Regions from separate parts of the Homo sapiens genome. Here regions 1 and 3 are each linked to region 2. The links come from fine-mapping of genetic effects on gene expression. A gene starts in region 2. Each other region holds a variant in brackets. All regions are shown on one strand. Distances are from middle to middle.

Region 1 (8,175 bases), 460 kb before region 2:
TCCCAGCTACTTGGGAGGCTGAGACAGAATGGCGTGAACCTGGGGAGGCGGAGCTTGCAGTGAGCCAAGTTGACGCCACTGCACTCCAGCCTGGGCGACAGAGCAAGACTCTGTCTCAAAAAAAAAAAAAAAAAAATCCCACTAGATTTTGTGTGTGTGTAAACTGACAAACTAGATTTAGCAGCCTGAGCAACACAGCAAAACCCCATCTCTACAAAAAATACAAAAATTTTGCACATGCCTGTATAGTCCCAGCTACTTGGGAGGCTGAAGTGGGAGGATCATGTGAGCTCTGGGGAGGTCGAGGCTGTAGTGAGCTATGATCACATGCTGCACTCTAGCCTGGGCAACAGAGCAAGAGACCCTGTATCTAAAAAAAGAATGAAAATTAAAAAATAAAAAGAAACCAAGATTGTGTGGTACTGGTACGAGGATAGGAAGACTAAAGGAACGAAATCCAGAGACAGGCCTGAAGATGTGTGGAAACTTGAATTTTGACAAGGGTGGTTCTTCAGAGCTAACATGAAGAAAGGGTTGTTTTCTTTTTTTTGTTTCCCCAGGAGCAACTCTATTAACTGAAAGAATAGGCTTTTCAATAAATGATGCTGGGTCAGTTGGATATCCATATAGAAAAAATTAAATGAGATCTCTATTTCACACTGCTTGCATAATCAATTCCATATAAATTTGACATCTGAAAATATACAGTTTCTAGAAAACAGTATTAAGACCTTGTTTTGTTTTTTGTTGTTGTTGTTTTTTGTTTTGTTTTTTGTTTTTTGAGACAGAGTCTCGCTCTGTCGCCAGGCTGGAATACAGTGGTGCAACCTTGGCTCACTGCAACCTCTGACTCCCTAGTTCAAGCAATTCTCCTGCCTCAGCCTCCCGAGTAGCTGCGATTACAGGCACATGCCACCACGCCCAGCTAATTTTTGTATTTTTAGTAGAGATGGGGGTTTCACCATGTTGGCCAGGATGGTCTCGATCTCCTGACCCTGTAATCCGCCCACCTCGGCCTCCCAAAGTGCTGGGATTACAGGCGTGAGCCACTGCACCTGGCCAAGAGAAGATCTTAAAGGTGACTTTAAGCAAACTTTTTTTTTTTTTTTTTTACAGAGACGGGAGCTGGAGTGCAGTGGCTGTTCACAAGCGTGAAAGCAAAGATTAAAAAATTTGTTTTTATATTAAAAAAGTTTTTAGAGATGGGGGTCTCACTTTGTGGCCCAGCCTGCAGTGCAGTGGCGCGATCATAGCTCCCTGCTGCCTCGACTTCCTAGGCTCAAGGGACCCTCCTGTCTTGGCCTCTGAGTAGCTGAGACTACAGGTATGCTCCACCACACCCGGCTAATTTCTTTACTTTTTTGTAGGGACAGGGTCTCATCATTTTGCCCAGGCTGGTCTGGAACTCTTGAGCTCAAGTGATCCTCCTGCCTTGGCCTCCCAAAGTGCTGGGATTACAGGCATGAGCCACCACAGCCAGTCAAGATTTTTTAACAGGACAGGACTGTCTAACAGGATTGTCTAATAGGACATAAAATACACTAACTATAAAGGAAAGTATTGATAAATTGGATTACATAATGATTGAGAACCTTCTTTTATCAAAAGACATTAAAAGTGGGAGAAGATACTCTAAGATAGAACATCCATGGACTCATATCCTGAATACATACTACAAATCAATAAAATATACACAAACAGATAAATGGGGCAAGAGATTCGAATAGTTACTTCACAAAAGAGAACATTCAAATAATATTGAAAAGGTGCTCAACCTCTTTAGTCATCAGGGAAATGCAAATTGAAAAAAATAAATACTGGCTAGGTGAGGCGACTCACATCTGTAATCCCAGCACCTTGGGAGGCTGAGATGGACAGATCACTTGAGGCCAGGAGTTTGAGACCAGCCTGGCCAGCATGGCAAAACCCTGTCTTTACTCAAAGCACAAAAGTTAGCCGGGCATGTTGGCCCACGCCTGTGGTCCCAGCTACTTGGGAGGCTGAGGCATGAGAATCGCTTGAACCCAGGAGGAGGAGGATGCAGTGAGCTGAGAATGCACCACTGGACTCCATCCTGGGCAACAGAACAAGACTTTACCTCCCAAAAAAAAGGTGGAGAGGGGAGGACTACTGCACTCTACCAGGATAGCGAAAATAAAAATGACTTGACAATACCAAGTTTTGGGAAAGATAGAAGCTTGAACTGTCTGACACTACTGAAGGAGCATACATTGGTACAACTACTTTGGAAACCTATTTGGCAGTATCTGCCTGTGACCGTGAAATTCCACTCTTTATTTGGGAATATACCCTCCTAAAATAATGCGTATGAGCAACATGAAGACATGTACAACAGTGCTCCTGGCAGCAGTATTTGCAACAGACAAAAATTGGAAACAACTGAAAGGTCATCAACAGTGGATGGATACGCTGGGTGTGGTGGCTCATGCCTGTAATCCCAGCACTTTGGGAGGCCAAGGAGGGTGGATCACCCGAAGTCAGGAGTTTAAGACCAGCCTGGCCAACAAGGAGAAACCTTGTCTCTACTAAAAATACAAAAATTAGCTGGGTGTGGTGGCGCACGCCTGTAATCCCAGCTACTCAGGAGGCTGAGACAGAATTACTTGACCCCTCATCCTGGGGTTGGCCTTATGCATGTGCAGCTTATGGCTCAGCACATATGCCAAAGACACGGTGCCAGCACTTTTTTTTTTTTTTTTGAGTTGGGGTCTCACTCTCACCCAGGCTGGAGTGCAGTGGTGCAATTGCTCCTGAGCATAAGTGATTCTTCCACCTCAGCCTCCCGAGTAGCTAGGACTACAGGTGTGGGCCACCACGCCCAGCTAATTTTTGTATTTTTTGTAGGGATGGGGTCTTCCTATGCTGTCCAGGTTGGTCTCAAACTCCTGGGCTCAAGCGATTTTCCCTCTACGGCCTCCCAAAGTGCTAGGATTACAGGTGTGAGCCACCTGCACACTTACACACCCATTCCTAGCTGCAGCTTCAGAAACTTCTGACCCAGGAAGTCAGCCCAAACCCCCTCACTGTC[C/A]CCCAAAATTTGAGTTCTTCTCAACTCTACCCAAACACTCCCCTTTCTTGGGGTGGCTTAATGCTCTGTCTCATTGCCCTTCCTACTGCCTACCCACATATCACATCTACCAACCTTCCACGCAGCCATAGACGTGTTCTATCAAAGACAGTTCCCTCCCCAAGAGGACTTCTCTGACTAATCATAATCTGCCTTTGGTTGTAATTTTGTGTTGTGAGGCCACCACAAGGGTGTTTGCTGAAGAGGTCCTGGAGTCCCCTCAGAGCACGCTTGCTACCAGGAGTCAGCATGTATGTAACTTCATCAGCTGGGGCTTCTGCTTCTCTTACAAACAGGTGCCAGGGCCCACCTTGGGCACTCCTGCAGAAGTGAGCAGAGGCTTCTGCCATGGGGCCATACCTTGTTTGACCTAGGTGCCAGCACTGGGACAGATGGCACAGCACAGTCCTGCCGTTCCCACAGGGTTTGTGTGTGCATCATGACAGGAAACACAGCAAGTCACAAAGGCTGTCCGATGTCCCTGCCTCAGCTTCCTGAGGACCTGTGCTTTTTACTGAAATACACTATCTCATAAGAATACTTCCCTGCCTTCCGCACCCCAGTGAGAAAGGAGTTGTGACTGGAAGTCAGTGTCATTGACTTTGGATATGAAAAGGAGGCAGAATGTCTCCAGGGTTAAAAGTAGTAACCAGGCCAGGCGTGGTGGCTTATGCGTGTAATCCCAGCATTTTGGGAGGCGGAGGTGAGTGGGTCACCTGAGGTCAGGAGTTCAAGACCAGCCGGGCCAACATGGCGAAATCCCATCTGTACTGAAAATACAGGAATTAGCCGGGTGTGGTGGCAGGCGCCTGTAATACCAGCTACTGGGGAGGCTGAGGCAGGAAGAATTGCTTGAACCCAGGAGGTTAAGGGTTGCAGTGAGCCAAGATCACACCACTGCACTCCAGCCTGGGTGACAGAACACGATTCCATCTGAAAAAAAAAAAAAAAAAAAAAAGCGGGGGCTGGGCGCGGTGGCTCACACCTGTAATCCCAGCACTTTGGGAGCCTGAGACAGGTGGATCGTCTGAGATCAGGAGTTCGAGACCAGCCTGACCAACATGGTGAAACCCCGTCTCTACTAAAAATACAAAAATTAGCTGGATGTGGTGGTGGGCACCTGTAATCCCAGCTATTCGGGAAGCTGAGGCAGAGGAATCATCGCTTGAACCTGGGAGGTAGAGGTTGCAGTGAGCCGAGATCACACCATTGCATTCCAGCCTGGGTGACAAGAGCAAAACTCCGTCTCAAAAAGAAAAAAAAAAAAAGTTAGTAACCAGGTTGTGTCCCACAGAGCTTTACTGGGGGCCAAACACTGTCAACCCCTCCTCAGGTCCCAGTGAGTTTGTGCACCTGGCCTTCTGACAGTAAGCGGTGAGCAGGGCATCCCCCACCAGGACCCCATACTTTCCTCCCATGGGTTTCCTATGGAATGTTGCTGCTTCAACTTCTGAGAGCCTCTTGCTGGGGGGCCCCATCCCTAGCCCTTGCCTCCCTGTGCTGCTTTACCTTCTTTTTGGGAGGATAACTGCCCTCTGTTTTCAGCACCCCAATAAGAAAGAAAAAGTCATGACCAGAAGTCAGTGTCAGTGATTGCTGATGTGTGGAAACATCTGATGAATGAAGAGTTTGGGTAAAAAATAAAGGGAACTGATGAAAACCACTTGTGTGTGAAGCCTATATAGTGGTGTGTGCCTGTAGTCCCAGCTACTCGGGAAGCTGAAGTGGGAGGACTGCTTGAGCACAGGAGTTGGACATCAGCCTTGAAAAGATAGTGAGACTCAATCTAGAAAACAGAAACAACACTTCTGACTGGTGTCTGCCTGTGGGTTTCTGACTCTGCTCCCAAACTTATGGTGAGAACTTCTTTGCTAACTTGAGAGTCTGCAAGAGTGAAGTTTTTGCCAAATTTTGGCCCTTAGTTCCTCTAAAACACTAATGGAAACGTAACCCCATGCTTGTTAAGACCCTCCTTCTGCCCTACCATGATTACCAGATCTCTGCTGAGGTTGCAAGATGAGGTGATCTTGCTGGAAACAAGGACAAATGGGGGAAGAAAATAGGGCTGGACAGGCCCAAGCATTCAGAGGCCAGGGCTGGGGGTAGGTAGGGGCCTGCTTCATTTGAGAACAACTATGAAGGACAATAGGGTTTCAACAGGGGAGAGAGTAGCGGTATTCAAAGCAAAGCAAAAGATGTAAGTGAAAGATGTAAGCGGGCCGGTGCGATGGGTCACGCCTATAATCCCCGTACTTTGGGAGGCCAAGGCAGGAGGATCACCGGAACTGAGGTGTTTGAGACCTGCTTGAGCAACATAGTAGGACCCTGTCTCTACCAAAAAAAAAAAAAAAAATTAAATTAGCTGGGCATGGTGGCTACTGTAGTTTCAGCTACTCAGGAGGCTGAGGCAGGAGGATCACTTGAGCCTGGGAGGTCAAGGCTACAGTGAGCCTGGGTAACAGAGTGAGACTGTCTCAAAAAAAAAAAAAAGGAGAAAAAGAAAGATGTAAGTGTGTAAGTGAAGCCTGGAGATGCAGACACCTGCGAATGGGCTGCTGAGGGGCACTTGGCTATGGCTGGGGCTCAGGAAAAGTGGAGCTCAGGGAAGAGAGGCTAGAACAGGGCTCAAAGGGCCTTGAAGGCCAGGCCTGTCAGGGTCCATCACCTCCTCAGGCTGGAGAAGTCAGTGCAAGCTGCAGTGATGGGGTCCTGAGGCCCCAGTACTTCTGCCCATCCTCTCCCACTGTCTCCCAAGATCATACAGGGAAGCCTGTTTCCAGATGCCTGTGATTTATTTCCAAAGGAGAGCTACAGCACATAGGAAAATACACATGGCTTTTCAGTCTACATTTTTACAGAGAAAAGAGATTCGGTCATTGGCTTTCTCAGTGCCATCATCCTGTTCCATGAGGCTCCAGGATGGATGGCCTGTCTCCAAGATCCCGCTTTCAAAGCAGCAGCTTGGCCAAGGCCTCTGGGGGTAGGAGTGAAGGGCAGCGACCCCCATGTGCGGGTGGAGGGGAGGACATGAGCAGCACTCACTGCAAAGCTAAGGCAAAGAATAGAGCTGGTGGGAGATGCCTCCCCTCACCCCAGGGGCATGGCTTGCTGAGGCCCAGGATACAGACCAGGAGGGGTGGGGATGGGGGTCTGGTCCAGCCTGGAGCGGCAGCAGGACTCTGAGTGTACACATGGGTGTGGGGTGAAGAGGGGGGCATGCTGAAGAGGAAGCCTACCAGGGTATAGAGGGGCTTTAGCTTGCATATTCCCCCTGCCCCAGAACAGCTCCCAGACCATGGTCCCCAATCCTACACTTGGCCCCTCTCTTAAGTTCTACTTCAGGTGGGGGTCCTGCTCAGGTTCCTTCTGCCACCTTATCCCCTCCCACTGTCAGTGCAAAACATTCTTAGGGCCAAGCCCCTGAGTCCCCTGCACACTGACTGGAGCTGCAGGGAAGGGAGGACAGCAAGGTGCTAGCTGGGAGCCTCCCCCAGCACCAGGAATTCCTTGCACATCTCTCGGACAATCATGCGGTCCATCTGGCACTGGGGTGAGGTCTCCTCCTCATTCAGGATGCGTCGCAGTATGGCCTGCAGGTCGGGTAGCCGGTGGCGGTGCTGCAGGTAGGGTGTGGTGCGGACTATAGCATGCATCAGGGAGAGGTACTCCATGCGCAGCTGTGGGAAGAGCAGGCCAGCTCAGGGACCCCAGGGAGGTACTGCAACCACCACTGGACAGGGACAGGACCCCACTGTCCCACAGACCCCAGGGCTGTGGACCTGAACATCAGGGCTGCATCCCCAGCACCCACAATATACCTGGCACAGAATTGGTCTTCAATAGTTTTTGAGTAAGCGAATAAACGAATCATCCCAGCCACAGACAGCCCCAAGTATGTGGCCTGCCCAGGGAAGTCCTGCCCATCCTTTGAAGCTGGGTCTCTCAAGGTGCCTCTGTCTATCAGTCAGAGGCCCTCTGCTTCTCACCCTATCCTCTCTTACCCTGGAAGACCTCGTGCACATTCACAGCTTCAAATAGTGAACCACTCTCATACCTCTTACCTAGAACTCCCCTGTGAGCTCCAGACAAGAATATTCAACTGCCCACTTGACATCTCCTGCACATGTGACAGACCTCAAATCCACATATCTACCACCAAACTCATGATCTTTCCCATCCTCCCAGAGTTGAAGGTTTTCTCATGTTCTTACCTTTAGAAAGAGCACTGTTGCCGATTCAAAAGCACAGGCCTGAAATATGGTGTCCTCTTTGCTTCTTGTCTCCCACATACCTCATATCCAAGCCATGTCTAAGACCTGGCCATCCTACCTCCTACATATGCCCCAAATTCATCTCCAACAGCCTCTCCTCCAACCTATACTCCCAACACCTCTGGCTGAACCAGTTCCAACAGCCCTTATGATCTATATATATATATCATATATATATATATATATGATATATATATATATATATCATTTTTTTTTTTGAGACAGGGTCTCGTGCTGTCACCCAGGCTGGAGTGCAGTGGCATGATCTTGGCTCACTGCAACCTCTGACTCCTGGATTCAAGTGATTCTCCTGCCTCAGCCTCCCAAATAGCTGGGATTACAGGCATGTGCCAAAATGCCTGGCTAATTTTTGTATTTTTTTTAAGAAGAGACGGGGTTTCGCCATGTTGGCCAGGCTGGTTTCAAACTCCAGACTTCAAGTGATCCACCCACCTCGGCCTCCCAAAGTGCTGGGATTACAGGCGTGAACCACCACGCCCGGCCAGCCCTTATGACTTGACAGCTTGTTCTCACAGAGACCCCCAGTCCACTGACCTGATGTCTGCTTCCCTCAACATCCCTCATTTCTCTTTTTACCTTTAATTAGAGAAATAATACCAAAACCTCCTTTAGGCAGCACACCCTGCTAAGTCCCAGCCCTGGGAGTCATACTGAGGTGCCTGCACATCAAACACCAGCGTCTAAGCTATAGACAAATGCAGAGCCATGTGCAGGCCTGAATGTCATTCACCACCGCAAACCTCAAACGGACACACAGCACTGCCTGAGCCTCCCACTGCTTTTCTCTGCTGTGTC
Region 2 (8,168 bases):
TCCACCACATCGAGCACCTGGGAGATAATGCAGCCAGGGATGGAGGCTCAGGTGAGGCTTTGCCTCTTCTGCCACAGCCAGCCCCAAACCCCATTTCTCCTGCCAAAGCTAGATATCACCCCTATCCCCTCAACAAGGTACTGCCCATAACCCCACCTCTCCAGTCATAGACGTGTCCACCCACATCCAGCCCTCTGCTTAGGGGGAGGCCCCACACCTGCCCTCGGGTGTCCTCAGCCTCCCAAATTAGGTGGTCCAGGAAGGGCCGGAAGTAGCCAGGTTGCACCTGCTCACAGCGTCGCCCAACCATGTGCTGGCGGCAGTGGCATTGACCTGTGCCCTCATCACACCTGGAGGGAACTCTGTGGTTACTCAAGAAGAACCTTCTCTTCTGCTCAGGATCTTTCCCCATCCCTTCCCAGGCCCCCTTTACAACACTTACTGGGGATCCAAAGCACCACCCACGTCGCAGTCACAGGGGCGGCAGCCGAGCAGGTCGTGGCTCAGGCCCCAGTGGCCAGGCTGCACGAAAGGAGTTGCTGGGGGCCAGAAACAGACCTCCAGACCCCATCACCACCCAGCAGGAAATCCCAACCACACGTCTTAGCCTCAATCACCCCTCAGTGAAAACATGCCCCCCAGACCACTGGCCCACATCCTTGGCCTCCCAGACCTGAGGCTTCTCAGCCAGGACTGGATCCTAAGCTCTCAGCACCCACCCACTGGCATAGATGTGACACCCCAGCCCTGTGCTCTAAGGACAAATCATGCCCCTAGAACTCCAGCCCCTTCCAGTCGCACCAGGCAGCGGTCACATCCACGTCCAGTCACTAGACGTTTGCAGTAACAGGATCCACTGTTGGGGTCACAAGGAGTGCTCCCAGGCACTGTGCCCCGTGCATTACATTGACATCCTGCAGGGAAGGAGAACCATCAGCACTTTGGGAAACTGTGGCAGTGCTCATGTTCAGCTGAGTCAGGAGTAAGAGGACAGGGGTTAAAGGTCAGCATAGAAGTTAGGGCAGGAGACACATACGCCGGCAGCCCAGACGGTCACTGATGCTGAGCCCAAAGAAGCCATCACGGCATTGCTGGCAGCGAGTGCCCACCACATGTTCTTTGCAGCGACACTGGCCGGAGACCAGTCCCAGTGCAGGGTCATCATGGGAATCACAGCGACCACCGTCTTGAGAACCCATGGGGTCACAATCACAGGCTGACGGCAAAAAGAGATACAGGGTCACTCACCCTATCTCAACTAGCTCACTGCCAGTCCTCTCCTAAGCCTAAGGGATCCCACCCTGGATCCCTGGTCAAGTTCTATCCCAAGCCCCTAACCCCAATTTCCTGCAATTTAGACAGCAGTCCAGCTCTCTAGTTCCTGCCCCAGGCTCAGCTTTCTCTCCCCGTGCCCAATCCCAGCCTCACAGCGGCACACAGCCGGATCCCGCAGGTCCTTGGTTGGGTCACGGTAGAAGAAGGGCCGACAGAGCTCACAGTGGCGCCCAGCTGTGTTATGCTGACATCCATCACACACACCTCCACTCACATTGCCAGATGCCAGGTATACGGCCATGTCGAAGTGGCAGCTGTGGGTGTGCCCATGGCACTCACACTCTGGCAGGGGAGGAAGGGCAGGGCAAAGGCCACATGAGGAACCAGGTCACAAGGGTAAGAAGTAGGCCACCTTAGATCCCTATCACAGGCCAGAATTTGTGGGTAGGGGCTCAGGGACTTCAAGGCCTCAGCATCATACTGGTTCCCTACCCAGAGCAGACTGCAGAGGAGGATTGAGGGGGTCCCAAGGGGCATCAAGGTCTGCATACTCTTTGGATACAGCCTGGGTTTTAGGGGCTTGACCAACTAGCTCTAGGTTCTACCCAGGGCACAGCCAGGCTGCAGAGTGCTGGAGCTATGGAGGCCAAGATCTCACTCACTCCTACAGGCATGACTATGGCCGTCCTCAGCCGGACGCCAGGGCAGGTCACGATAGAAATCCTGACACTGCTCGCAGTTGAGGCCACGTGTGTTGTGTTTGCAGATGCAAGCTCCGTGCACCTATAGAGGTTGGCAGGTAGGTTGTCAGCACTGCTCAGCCATGTCCGCCCCTGCCCCTAGCCCTATCCCAACCGTCTGAAGCCCCTTACCATGCCCTCAGCATGGGCTGGTGCCCCTGGGGCGGGTGCACACTCTGAGGCGTGTCCGTAGCAGAAGCAGTTGCCACGTACAACCAGCTCATAGAGGGCATAGTAGTACTTCTCTCGGATCTCCCTCCGTGGGTCGAGTAGGTTGTCTCCCAACGTGTGTAGACGAGTCAGGTTCACCCGTAGGTTGGTGATCTTCAACAGGTCTGAGGCGGGGGAAGGGGGGCCAACTGACCAGGCAGGCCCTTGCTGCCCCATGTCCACCCAGGGGCTCAGCTGCCAAGGTCACCTTGAAAGACCTCCTATACACTGCCACCCGAGCTAAACTGGGCTTGGCACCTGCCCTAGGAAGCACCCAAAATAGTTACTGAGGCCCCAAATAGTCCCTAGCCGGACACGGACTGTGCCAGACTCAAAGGGTGGAGCACTCACTCTGAATCCGTGAGCTGTAGGGGTCTGGGATAGGGATGGCAGGGTCCAGCACACGATAGATGACCTGGAGAAGCAGGGAGTTCATAGTCACACTGGACCTTGCCTCAGGCCCATCATCCCCAGCTTCCAGCCCCCAGCCCAGATGCCAGCCCTCACCTCGCCTTCAGTGGATGGCTCAATCTCTGAGTAGCGGGACTCACAGACTACATCATCCCAGTGCCGTGGGGGTGCTAGTGGGACTCCTGGGAAGTCAGCCCCACAGTCATAGGAGAAATATCGGTACACATGCCAGGTGCGGCCAAAGTCTGCTGAGCGTTCCACCAGCATGGCAGCAGGGCGAAATGTCTGGGTAGGGGGGCATAGCTGATCAGCAGGCACCAGGACCCAAGCCCAACCCAGAGCCATCAAGAGCCCTGCTCAGCCCAAGACTGCCCTCAAATAGCTCACAGAGAGTGGGGGTGACTGGTGGAAGCCAGATAATGACCAGCAAAGGTAGCCACCTCTAATGGGGAGACTCAGGGTTCATGGGGCTCAGGGAGACAGCGCCTGACCCAGCCTGGGATTGGAAAGGCAGAAGAGCATGTGCAAAGGCCTGGAGGCAAATGGAAGGTGTGAAGGGATGAAGGAGCCTCCTGCATCCATGCTCAAGGAGGCTGTGTTAAGGAGCTGAGGCTCTGTCCAGGGGCAATGGAGAGCCAAGCAGGGTGATTCGGGCAGGCTCCCAGATATGCAGGCACCTTGAAGGTCATAATGAGGTGTGTGAAATGAAACTCAGCCTCCAGGTCCAGCTGGATGGTGACCGCAGGGATACCTGGGACAGGAATCGGAAGTCAAGGACTCAAAGCTACTGGTGGGCAGCCCTGCTCACTTTTGCCCCACCCATGGCCTCACCATTCTCTGACTGCCACCAGGCTGCCCGCCGCTGTGGTGCAAAGCTGGTGACTACATTCTGGATGCGATGGCTGTGTGGGTTGTCTCTAGCAGAGAAGGGGCGCCGGGAGTCACAAAGGAAGCACTTCTTTTCGTCCTGGGTTGGATGGGGATTAGAATCAGTGCCTCAGGCAGTGCCAGCCCCACCCTGACTCGGCGTCACACCCTGTCCCCAGCCACACCTGCAGGTGACTGACGATGCAGTAGGGCTGGGGGCCATTCAGGCCACAAGTGGATGAGGCAGTCAGTCTGTCAGCTCGGCCCACCAGCAGGTCGCCCGTGGCGGGGTAGCAGCTTCCCCTGGAACAGCCAGGCACATCCGGGGCAGGGGCCTGTGCCAGTGTGGCAGCCAGCACTGGGGACAGTAGCTCAGTCAGTTCCGCTGAGTTCCTATCCAGTGGCTCCACCTCATGTGCCCCAAGGGCAACTACCAGGACCTACCATCACATTCCACAACCCCCAGCCCCCACCAGGCCCTCTCACCGCTTAGCAGTAGGCCCAGTCGAAGTTCCCAGGGCAGAGGCTGTCCCCTCCCTCTTTCCCTTGAGGTCAGCTCCATCCTGAAGAGGGGAACAGGGATAAGGGGAGGTGAACGGTCTCGGGCCCGAGCCCTCCTCCTTGCTTTGGGGTTCCGTGTCAACTCTGCCTGTGGGTCTTTGGCCTGTTTCCCTCCAGGCCCTCTGTCAGTTCCCAGGTCTGTCCAGCGGTCCCTCCGACAGCTTAGAGTCCAGCGACTTTGAGCAAAGTTGGGAATCGCGGCAGGAAGGAAAGGCCGGAGCGGATTCTGGGAAGGAGCGCAACACCGGGCGGAGAGCGCCCCCACCCCAACCCTACCCCTTCCCTCCGGAAACTGCCTTCGCCCCAGGAACCAGAGACAGACCACTTCACCCACAAATCTTTATTGTGCCCCCAAGCCCACACCTATACGAGGGCCAGGGGAAGGTAAGGGGTTTGGTGCTTTAAACTATCCTTGGAAGAGGGCTCACGAAGTTGGGGGCATGGCAGGAGCAAATGAGAGATCTTCGGGATCTCCAACTCTGGACCAAGGAGACCGTAGCCTTTTCCCCTCAGCGTCATGGGCGCCGTGGAAATTACCATCAACTCAGCCGTTTGATCCCAGGGCTCCAGCATCAACAGAGAGGCTGGAGGGCACAAGCAGGAGCAACACATGCCCCTATTCAGGGCTGTGGGGGGCTCTCGGGTAGTCCTAGGGACTGGACAGAATGGGGCTGGGGGAGAGATGGGGAAAGTGCACACCCAGCCCGAAGCACAGCTCCAGGGGGGTCACTGCCTCCCCCACTAGTCACTACGGTAAGTAGGCACGAGAAGTGCTGCGGGTTTCCCTGTATGGAAATAGGCTCTGGGTGGTGGACCAGAGCTACGGCGAGCGACTCCGGATCTTGTGGCTATTTATCCGCTCCAGACTTTTTGGCCTGCCGGGATCGCAGGAGCCTGGGGTTGGAATGTGCGCGGCGGCGTGGAGGGGGAGAGAAGGAGGAAAGTGGGTGGGGGATATGGGGCGCGCCCCACCCAGGGCCCTGGGAACGGGAAGCTGGGGGAAACATGGGGTCCTCCGGTCTTTAGGGCTGGGTCTGGCCTGCCGCCTCCACAGTCCCGGCAGGGAGTGCCCTGAGCTGCCATCCAGGGAAGAAAGCTGATGATAGTTCCTCAGGGGAATCACCCCACTTCACAAAGGAGCATGGGGGCGGCGGGGGTGGGGGTTGGGTGAGGGTTGGGTGGGGGTCAGTCAATCCGTTGGACTTTAGGCATCGCTGGGAGTTATTCTGGATATCCGGAGTAGAGGTCTCCAGTCACCCTGAGGATCATGTAGTCAACCTGGGGGATCAGGGATACTAGAAATTACTGAGAATTTTAATTTTTTTTTTTTTTTTGAGACAGAGTGTCGCTCTGTCACCCAGGCTGGAGTGCAGTGGCGAGATCTCCGCTTACTGCAACCTCTGCCTCCCAGGTTCAAGCGATTCTCCTGCCTCAGCTTCCCAAGTAGCTAGGATTACAGGCGCCCACCACCACGCCCAGCTAATGTTTCTATTTTTAGTAGACATGGGGTTTCACCATGTTGGCTTGGCTGGTCTTGAACTCCTGATCTCAGGTGATCCTCCCGCCTCTGCCTCCGAAAGCGCTGGGATTACAGGCATGAGCCAGTAAATAGTGCCAGGCCCCATCTATTTATTTTGAGTGGAGAATGCCAGCACTGTAGTCTCACAGTTTTAGATCACTCAGAGATAAAGGTGTATCAAGGTCTGGGACACTAGATGGCCTCAGGGAGTTACATGATCTGTCTGCTTTCTCAAGGTCAGAGGGCCACTGGGGGACATCGTGGGGCCACATGGGGGGGTCACTCAGGGTCAGTGGGCACTCAGTAGGATCTTTGGTCTCCCAAGGCCAGGAGATTCCTGGATCACTCTAGGGCCACTTTGAGTTACCCAGGTGATCCCACAGTCCTTCTTAATGGCTTCCATAGACAGTAATTAGCAGGTGGCATACTTATTGGTGGCAAAGCACATCATGTGCCCAAGCAGCTCAGCTGCCTGCTGCTCCAGGGCCTGCAGGGTGGCTGCCTTCTTGCCCAGTGCCTGTGCATTCTGTGTCAGGCGGCACTCCAACCCTGGGGTCAGGTCATCTGAGCCAGGCTCTGACCCCTGGCTCTAACCTCTGATCCTGGTCCCAGTCTCTATCACAACCCTGACCCTGACCCAGCCCTAACCTTAAATAAACCCTGAACCTAATCAACACTTGATCCCTGGTCTAAACCTTGACCCTAGCCCTGATCCCTACATGAGTCAAGATCTGATCTGGACCCAGCCTTAACCCTTCCACAACATCCCTATTCTGGCCCTGACCTTTCCATCTGACCCTAAGCCGTTCCCTGTGCCTGCCCTATTGCAGGCCAGCCATGCACCATGCAGGCAGCTGAAGCTGCTTTATGCCTTCTTCAGGAGCTCCTGGGCCTCAGCTCAAGCCTGCTGCACCCATTCTTTTGCATCCTGCACAGTGGCTACCAGGCCATATGTGTCCTCCTGCAGCTCGGCCACAGCCAAAGGGGCCACCTACAACTCCTAGGGCAGGGCTGGACCTGAATCCCCACCCCACCCAGAATATATTGCCTCAAATATATTACTGCCTAAGGTTCCTGGAGAAAAGGAGAATTTAGAACTGAGATCCCGCCTCAGTCCAGTATAGCCCAGCCCCAGCCCAAACCCCACTTTCCACTGTTCCAGAGGGGTCCCTGAGACCCCAGTGCCCACTCTTCCCCATTTCATCTTGCCCAGGCCCTCAGCCCTGCCTACGACTCATGCTGCCCATTCTTCTGCCTCCTGGGCCTGCTGCTGACTCAGGACAAAACATGCCCTGAGCACCTTAGCTACACTGGACAGACGCCCTGGGACTGGGGTCACCTCAACTGCCAGTGCCATCTGGGCCAGGCGCCCTACTACCTGGGGCAAAGGTTAGGGGGTCACAGAGAGGACACAGCACAGTAGCAACTAGGCTGAGTGTTATCACGGTCAAGGTACTTGGTAGCACTGTGGTATCATAGTGAGTCAAGGATCTCAGGGAGAATGGAAATCACAGCAGTCATTGAACAAGGGATGTAAAGGAGCTGAGGGTACAAGTAGGGTATCACCTCCTGTACAGTGCCCTCCAGGCCTTCAAGTGCCAGCTTCACTTCCTGTAGCCCTTGCTCTGCGGCCCCTGCATGAGTTCCATTCCCCCCTCAGCCAGCACCCCCTGAACATCCAGTGCTTGGTGCTGGGCCCAGGTTGTACCCTCCTTGAAGAACACAGGTGTTCAGTTAGGCATCCCTTTTCTGGCCACCCTCTGACTTCCACCTCCAGCCTCCTGGCCCTTCACCTGGTTCACTCTGCCTGATGGAGGATGCCTTCAGCTTTGGGCAGCTTCTGGCCCATGGCATCCGGTACAGGGAGAGCACCCTGGATCTGACCCAGCAGAAGAGCAATGCCTACTGCCCCCACCTTGGGGAAGGGGCACTGACAGCCAGCTCCACACTTGTGGTGTCCACACCTTTGTCTGTGGGGAAGAGGGTAGGGATCTTAGGCCTGAACCCTGAACTCTGAGCCAACAAACCCTGACCCTAGCCTCTCACTGATCCTGCCTTAGACACAACTATCCAGTGGTGTGCTGGAGGCTTACAAGAGGCAATTGTTGGCCGGGCGCAGTGGCTCACGCCTGTAATCCCAGCACTTTGGGAGGCCGAAGCAGGCAGATTGCCTGAGCTCAGGAGTTCGAGACCAGCCTGAGCAACACGGTGAAAACCCATCTCTACTAAAATACAAAAAATTAGCCAGGCATGGTGGCATGTGCCTGTACTCCCAGCTACTCAGGAGGCTGAGGCAGGAGAATTGCTTGAACCCGGGAGGCGGAGCTTGCAGTGAGCCAAGATCACACCACTGCACTCTAGCCTGGGTGACAGAGCGAGACTCTGTCTCTAAAAAAAATAAAAAATAAAATGATAATAAAAAAAGGGTAATCCCAGCACTTTGGGAGGCCAAGGCAGGCAGATTACAAGGTCAGGAGTTTGAGACCAGCCTGGCCAATGTAGTGAAAACTCATCTCTACTAAAAATAACAAAAATTAGCTGGATGTGGTGGCGGGTGCCTGTAATCCCAGCTACTCAGAAGGCTG
Region 3 (8,175 bases), 60 kb before region 2:
AAAAAATTAAAAAAAAAAAAAAAATTAGTTGGGCGTAGTAGCTGTAGTCCAAGCTACTCAGGAGACTGAAGCAGGAGGATCACTTGAGCCCAGGAAGTCCAGACTGCAGCGAGCCGTGATCATGCCACTGCACTCCAGCATGGATGACAGAGCCAAGCTTGGCTAAAATTTCTTTCTTTTTTTTTTTGTGATGGGGTCTGTGCTCTATTGCCCAGGCTAGAGTGCAGTGGCACGATCTCGGCTCACTGCAACCTCCGCTTCCTGGGCTCAAGTGATCCTCCAGCCTCAGCCTCCTGAGTAGCTGGGATCACAGTCATGCACCACCATGCCTGGCCAATTTTTTGTATTTTTGGTAGAGATGGGAGTTTTGCCATGTTGCCTAGGCTGGTCTAGAACTCCTGAGCTCAAGCAATCCACTCACCTTGGCCTCCCAAAATGCTGGGATTACAGGCATGAGCAACCACACCCGGCCAAACTTGGCTAAAATTTAAAGTAGAAAGGAATAAAACTACTCTTGCAGGTATCATATAGCACAAACCATCTCTCTAGCATCCTGTAGGTTAGAAATTTGTGATAAGACTTTTAGAACTACTTGAATAAGGCAAAAAAGCCTCAAGTAGAAAATTTATTATTATTATTATTATTATTATTTTTTTTTTTTTTTTGAGATAGTCTTGTTCTGTCGCCCAGGCTGGAGTGCAGTGGCGCAATCTTGGCTCACAGCAACCTCCGCCTCCCGGGTTCAAGCAATTCTCTGCCTCAGCCTCCCGAGTAGCTGGGATTACAGGTGCCCACCACCACACCTGGCTACTTTTTTGTATTTTTAGTAGAGACGGGGTTTCACCATCTTGGCCAGGCTGATCTTGAACTCCTGACCTCGTGATCCACCCGCCTTGTCCTCCCAAAGTGCTGGGATTAGAGGCATGAGCCACCACACACAGCTGAAAATTATTTTTTACAGAAAAAAAGGACGTTTCCTCCAATTACACTTATAACTTGCATTAATAGTTGATAATCTGTGTGGGCGAGGGGACCACAAAGAGCACTCTAAAAGGCTGGCGAAAATACAGATCCATGGGGGGGAATTTTTTTTTTTTTTTTTTTTTTGAGATAAAGTATTCTCAAGCGATCCTTCCACCTCAGCCTCTTCAGTAGCTGGGATTACAGGTGTGTACCACTACATCTGGCTAATTTTATTTTTAGTACAGACAAAGTCTCACTATGTTGCCCAGGCTGGTCTTGAATTCCTGAACTCAAAGGATCCTCCTGCCTCAGCCTCCCAAAGTACTGAGATTACAGGTATGAGCCACTGCACCCAGCCTATGATTCTTACTCAAAAGAGCAGTAACAATTATCATCAAACTAATGTATCTCTAACTTGCTCATCAAGGTAATGTGAGCTGTAAGTATACATATGTGTATGTGTGTGTTTTGAAGTCTCTAGTCAATTCCCAACCTTTAGTTCTAAAGCTACCCCAGTGGACCTCTACTCTGTGTATCCTCTACTTCTCAGCTTAGGGCACTCTAAGAACTGCCCCACTTTCCCCAAAAGTTCTTTCCTACACGCATTTGTCACCAAATTTTTTTTTTTTTTTGGAGACAGAGTTTCGCTCACATTGCCCAGTCTGGAGTGCAATGGTACGATCTCAGCTCACTGCAACCTTGGCTTCCCAGGTTCAAGCAATTCTCCTGCCTTAGCCTCCGAATAGCTGGGACTATAGGCACCTGCCAACATGCCCGGCTGATTTTTGTATTTTTTAGCAGAGATGAGGTTTCACCATGTTGGCCAGGCTGGTCTCAAACTCCTGACCTCAGGTGATCCGCCTGCCTCAGCCTCCCAAGGTGCTGGGATTACAAGCATGAGCCACCACGCCTGGCCTTTCATCACCTAATTCTGTCTACTTATTCTCTTTTATCAATTTCTTAGATTTAGTGGTTTTTAAATGGTATTCATTTTTTCCAACACTCTTAAAAATGCTTTGTTGTTCTGTTTTTTATAGAGACAGGGTCTTGCACTTTTGCCCAGGATGGAGTGCAGTGGCGTGATCACAGCTCACTGCAACTTCGAACTCCTGGGCCCAAGGAGTTCCTCAGCCTTCTGAGTAGCTGGGACTACAAGTGCACACCACCATGCCAAACTAATTTTTGTGTTTTTCTGTAGAGATGAGGTTTTACCATGTTTCCCAGCCTGGTCTCAAACTCCTGGGCTCAAGTCATCTACATACTTCAGCTTCCCAAACAGCTGGGATTACAAGTGTGAGCCACCATGCCTGGCCTGGCCAGAATTCTTTATTTTTTAAAAGTATCTTTTTAGTCACTTAGGGAAAACATACATTCTTATGATTCTATCACACTGAATCTATCTCATGGATGTCATTATATTTGTTTCTTCTTTCATTTACATAGAGTTTAGGGAGAAAGACGAACGTTAATAGTGATCTCGGTCAGTGGCTTTTCTTTCTTCTGAGACAGAGTCTGCTCTGTCACCCAGGCTGTGGTGCAGTGGTGTGATCTTGATTCACTGCAACCTCTACCTTCCAAGTTCAAGCATTCATCAGTTTATCTTGAACATAAAGTCTCAAAAAACACTCCAAACTTAAATCCCCAAACTTTTTTTTTTTTTTGAGACAGACTCTTGCTCTATCGCCCAGGCTGGAGTGCAGTGGTGTGACCCTGGCTCTCTGCAAGCTCCACCTCCCGGGTTCACGTCATTCTCCTGCCTCAGCCTCCCGAGTAGCTGGGACTACAGGCACCCGCCACCAGGCCTGGCTAATTTTTTGTATTTTTAGTAGAGACGGAGTTTCACTGTGTTAGCCAGGATGGTCTCAATCTCCTGATCGGCCTCCCAAAGTGCTGGGATTACAGGCATGAACCACCGCACCCAGCCCCAAACTCTTTAATCTTATGAGAAAGCGGGGCCAGGTGTAATGGCTTGTGCCTGTAATCCAAACACTTTGTATTTGTAATCCAAACACCCACAAAGTGGGTGGCTCAGCTGAACTCAGGAGTCCCAAGACCAGCCTAGGGGCCAGGTGCAATGGCTCATGCCTGCACTTTGGGAGGCTGAGGCAAGTGAATCGTTTAAGGTCAGGAGTTCAAGACCAGTCTGTCCAACATGGTGAATGAAACCCCACCTCTACTGAAAAAAGTACAAAAATTGGCCAGGCGTGGTAAGGAAGAGGAGGTCAAAGCTGTAAAAAACAGCAGAATAATTTGAGCCAGAAAATCAGACTTCTTTTCTCTTTTTTTGAGACACCTTTCCTGTCCTTAGTGTAAAAGGCTAGAGTGCAGTGGCACAATCACAGCTCGCTGCAACCATGACCTCCCAGGTTCAGGTGATCCTCCCACTTCAGCCTCCCCAGTACCTGGGATCACACAAGCAAGCCACCATACCCAGTTAATTTTTGTACTTTTGTACAGACAGGATTTCGCCATGTTGCCCAGGCTGGTCTCAAACTCCTAGGCTCAAGGAATCCACTCACCTCAGCCTCCCAAAGTGCTGGGATTACAGGTGTGAGCCACCATGCCTGGGCCAGCCTTCTTTTACTTAACCTTTCCTGTACCTTTTCTTCCTTACAAAGACAAAACAAGGCTGGGCGTGGTGGCTCATGCCTACAATCCCAGCACTTTGGGAGGCCGAGGTTGGCAGATCACTTAAAGTCAGGAGTTCAAGACCACCCTAGCCAACATGGTGAAACCCCATCTCTACTAAAAATATAAAAATTAGTCGGGCGTGCTAGCTTGAACCCCAGAGATGGAGGTTGCAGTGAGCCAAAATAATGCCACTGCACTCTAGTCTGGGCAACAGAGTGAGGCTCTGTCTCAAAAAGTAAGTAAATAAATATAAAGATAAAAAATGAGTAAATCTCAGCCTGGGCAACATGGTGAAATTCTGGCTCTATCAAAAATACAAAAAATTAGGCAGGTGTTGGTGGTGTGCGCCTGTGGTCCCATGTACTCGGGAGGCTGAGGTGGGAGGATTGCTTGAGCCTGGGAGGCTGGGGTTGCAGTGAGCCAAGATCATACCGCTGCACTCCAACCTAGGTGACAGAATGAGACCCTGTCTCCATTA[C/CA]AAAAAAAAAAAAACTCTCCATATGCCAGATACTTTATTATCTTATTCAGTCTCATTAAATGGTATTATCCTTATTTAACTGATGAACAAACTGGAGGTAAAGATTAATAAGCTCATGCCAACAATTGAGTGGTCAAGTCAAATTTAAACCCAGTACTGAAGCTTCAGAGGCTATGTCCTTCCAATATACTCGTCTGCATTTTTGAGGAGCTACAGTGAAACCTACTTCAGCTGGGAACAGTGGCTCATGCCTATAATCCCAGCACTTTGGGAGGCTGAGCCATGAGGACTGCTGGAGGCCAGGAGTTCAACACCAGCCTGAGCAACATGGCGAGAGTCCATCTCTACCAAAAATGAAAAAATTAGCTGGGCATGGTGGCACGCACCTGTAGTCCTAGCTACTCGGGAGGCTGAGGTGAGAGCATCACCTGAGCCCAGGAGGTAGAGGCTGCAGTGAGCCATGATCATGTCACAGCACTCCAGCCTGGGCAAGTGAAATCCTGTCTCTTAAAAAAAAAACAGAAAAAATGAAGGAAAGGGAAACCTTCTATCTCACCAGGCACACCTCTCCATACTCCTGCCTCTCCAGCATGTTTCAGTCCCTTTCCTATCCTCTTAGTATAAAAAGACTTCCAGAATACAATGAAATTAAACCATAATAGACAATGGCAAGAAAACTGCATTTGCAACTAGAGGAGCCTGTTATCTCACATAAAGACCTCTAAAGAGGAAAACTTTGGCCAGGCACGGTGGATCACACCTGTACTTTGGAGGCCAAGGCCGGTGGATCACCTGAGATCAGAAGTTCAAGACCAGCCTGACCAACATGGTGAAACCCTGTCTCTACTAAAAATACAAAAATTAGCCGGCACAGTGGCAGGTGCCTGGAATCCCACCTACTCAGGAGGTTGAGGCAGGAGAATCGTTTGAACCCAGGAGGCAGAGGTTGCAGTGAGCTGAGATCACGCCACTGCTCTCCAGCCTGGGTGACACAGTGGGACTCCATCTCGAAAAAAAAAAAAAGGAAAACATTTTACCTTCTCAACAAATGTACTAGTTTCTCGTCTTTCAGAAAGTTTATCATCAATTAGCATTATTTTTTTGTGCCTTACAATTTTTATTTTTATTTTTTTTGAGATGGGATCTCACTCTGTCACCCAGGCTGGAGTGCAGTGGCACGATCTCAGCTCACTGTAACCTCCACCTCCCAGGCTCAAGCGATTCTCCCATCTCGGCCTCCCTAGTAGCTAAGACCATAGGCGTGCATCACCACACCCAGCTAATTTTTTCTTATTTTTGGTAGAAACAGGGTTTCACCATGTTGCCCAGGCTGGTTTTAACCTCCTGGGCTCAAGCAATCCTCCCACCTCAGCTTCCCAAATAGCTGGGACTACAAGTACATACCATCCCTGGGTAATTTTTTTTTATTTTTTGTAGAGACGGGGTTTTGCCATGTTGCCCAGGCTGGCCTCAAACTTCTGGACTCAATGATCCGTCCACCTTGGCATCCCAAAGTGCTGGGATTACAGGCATTCACAAATGCACTTAGCCGTTTTGTGGTTTAGAAACAACAAACACAGACCCAGAAATCCATACGTAATCTGAGTTATGGAATCACACAAGTTAATGAAGATCACTGAAATACATCAGCCTTTCCATTTTTAAATTAATTTCAAATGTTACACTATCAGTAATCAGCCAAGACCAGCCCTCCTGTGTTCTGTCTCTATTCAGGATGACACAAATAGAAAGGAAGCCTCAGATGGACGTGGTGGCTCACACCTGTAATCCCAGCATTTTGGGAGGCCGAGGTGGGCGGATCATGAGGTCAGGAGATCGAGACCATGCTGGCTAACATGGTGAAACCCCGTCTCTACTTAAAATACAAAAAATTAGCCAGGCATGGTGGCTGGCGCCTGTAGTCCCAGCTACTCGGGAGGCTGAGGCAGGAGAATGGCGTGAACCCGGGAGGCGGAGCTTGCAGAGAGCCAAGGTCACACCACTGCACTCCAGCCTGGGGGACAGAGCGAGACTCCATCTCAGGAAAAAATACAAAAGAAAAGAAAGGAAGCCTCAGTCATATGAAGCTATCACACCTAAACCCAGTACCAAAAGATCTCTAATTTCAAAACTATTCAGCTCTCCACAGCAAAGATCAAATATTTGGGCCAGGCGCAGTGGCTCATGCCTGTAATCCCAGCACTTTGGGAGGCCGAGGCAGGTGGATCACGAGGTCAGGAGATCGAGACCATCCTGGCTAACATGGTGAAACCCCGTCTCTACTAAAAACACAAAAAAATTAGCTGGGCGTGGTGGCAGCTGCCTGTAGTCCCAGCTACCTGGGAGGCTGAGGCAGGAGAATGGCGTGAACCTGGGAGGCAGAGCTTGCAGTGAGCTGAGATTGCACCACTGCAGTCCAGCCTGGGCAACAGAGCGAGACTCCATCTTAAATAAAAAAGACCAAATATCTGTGGTGTTTTTAGTTTACAGTACTCGAAAATATTTTTAAGGCCAGGCATGGCAGCTCATATTTGTAATCTCAGCTCTTTGGGAGGCCAAGGCAGGAGAATATCTTGAGGCCAAGAGTTCAAGACCAGCCTGGGCAACATAGGGAGACTATATCTCTACAAAAAAAAAAAAAATTAATTAATTAGCTGCACGTGGTGGTACATGCCTGTGGTCCCAGCTACTTGGAGGTTGAGGCTGGATGATCGCTTAAGCCTTGGAGGTCAAAGCTGCAGTGAGGAGTGATCGTGCCACTGCACTCCAGCCTAGGTGACAGAGCAAGACCCTGTCCCTCAAAAAAAAAAAAAAAAAAAGTCAGGCGCCGTGGCTCATGCCTGTAATCCTAGCACTTTGGGAGCCCGAGAAGGGCAGATTACCTGAGGTCAGAAGTTCGAGACCAGCCTGGCCAACAAGGTGAAACCCAGTCTCTACTAAAAATACAAAAATTAGCCGGGCGTGGTAGCACATGCTTGCAATCCCAGCTACTCAGGAAGCTGAGGTAGGAGAATCGCTTGAACCCAAGAGGTGCAGGTTGCAGTGAGCCGAGATGGCTCCATTGCATTCTAGCCTGGACAACAAGAGCGAAACTCCAACTCAAAGAAAAAACAAACAAACAAAAAAAAGGCTGGGCATGGTGGCTCACACCAGTAATCCCAGCACTTTGGCACTTTGGGAGGCCAAGGCACGCAGATCTCTTGAGGTCTGGAGTTCAAGCCCAACATGGGGAAACCCAGTCTGTATTAAAAATACAACAAAAATTGCTGAGGGTGGTAGTGCACACCTGTAGTCCCAGCTACTCAGGAGTCTGAGGCATGAGAATAGCTTGAACCCGGGGGACAGAGGCAAGAATGCACCACTGCACTCCAGCCTGGGTGACAGAATGAGACTCTGTCTCAAAAAAGAAAAGAAAAAAACAACCCAGGTGTGGCCGGGTGCGGTGGCTCATGCCTGTAATCCCAGCACTTTTGGATAAGGAGGCAGGTGGATCATGAGGTCAGGAGTTCAAGACCAGCCTGGCCAACATAGTGAAACCCCGTCTCTATTAAAAGTATAAAAAATTAGCCGAGTGTGTTGGCAGGCACCTGGAATCCCAGCTACTCAGGAGGCTGGGGCAGGAGAATCCATCCTGGACCACAGTGCAAGACTCCATCTCAAAAAAAGAAGAAACAAACAAAGAAAACAACCCAAGTACAATGACATGGCAGCACCACAGTGTTGGTCAGCCTCGGAAAGCCAGTCCCCCACCATCACTGACATCGCCGCCGGCGGGGTCACGTGCCGGGACCGGGTTCCGGTGTGGAGAGCCCCTCATCCTGGGAAAAGGTGCTGCCAGAAAGGTGGCGCCCCCTCACTCATCACGCAAGTCACGTTGAACCTGATGCTAAACCAATCATAGATGACCCGCTTCTGGGTTGGGGTTTCCTAGGTAGCTAAGCAGATCCCTGGCTGCAATCTATTCAAAGTCAGTCCTTGACACTGGGGTTTGTTTAAAAAAAAAAAAAAGCTTAAAGAAAAAGGAGAAGAAAGAAAAAACTTTTAGTCCACATTAACTTTGAAAATCTTAGTGTTAAATAACCTATAACATCCACATAGATGTG

What was found.
Region 1: its variant is fine-mapped to the expression of LAMB2 in whole blood (INTERVAL, PIP above 0.99).
Region 3: its variant is fine-mapped to the expression of LAMB2 in whole blood (INTERVAL, PIP above 0.99).

Annotation. Positions count from the first base shown.
Region 1 is chr3:48,667,983-48,676,157 of GRCh38, forward strand. It overlaps NCKIPSD (NCK interacting protein with SH3 domain), which reads right to left. Exons shown (of 13, transcript NM_016453.4): 13 at 5,862-6,765. The coding sequence ends at 6,562. LINC02585 (long intergenic non-protein coding RNA 2585) reads left to right here. Exons shown (of 3, transcript NR_111921.1): 3 at 1,117-1,192. Among named protein-coding and RNA genes, the nearest start is that of LINC02585, 8.3 kb to the left of the region's middle. The variant C/A (reference allele first, on the strand shown) is at 3,050.
Region 2 is chr3:49,128,803-49,136,970 of GRCh38, forward strand. LAMB2 (laminin subunit beta 2) reads right to left here and starts at 4,248. Exons shown (of 32, transcript NM_002292.4): 1 at 3,990-4,248; 2 at 3,689-3,861; 3 at 3,468-3,603; 4 at 3,314-3,387; 5 at 2,733-2,921; 6 at 2,577-2,640; 7 at 2,148-2,350; 8 at 1,938-2,058; 9 at 1,429-1,617; 10 at 1,037-1,216; 11 at 802-914; 12 at 443-522; 13 at 218-350; 14 at 1-17. The coding sequence starts at 4,065. It overlaps LOC124909377 (a long non-coding RNA gene), which reads left to right and starts at 4,066. Exons shown (of 2, transcript XR_007095905.1): 1 at 4,066-4,817. RefSeq lists enhancers at 1-177, 2,706-3,521, 4,339-5,154, a cis regulatory region at 5,688-5,901 and a silencer at 7,434-7,728.
Region 3 is chr3:49,068,459-49,076,633 of GRCh38, forward strand. All of the region lies in intron 2 of QRICH1 (glutamine rich 1), which reads right to left. Among named protein-coding and RNA genes, the nearest start is that of QRICH1, 22 kb to the right of the region's middle. The variant C/CA (reference allele first, on the strand shown) is at 4,073.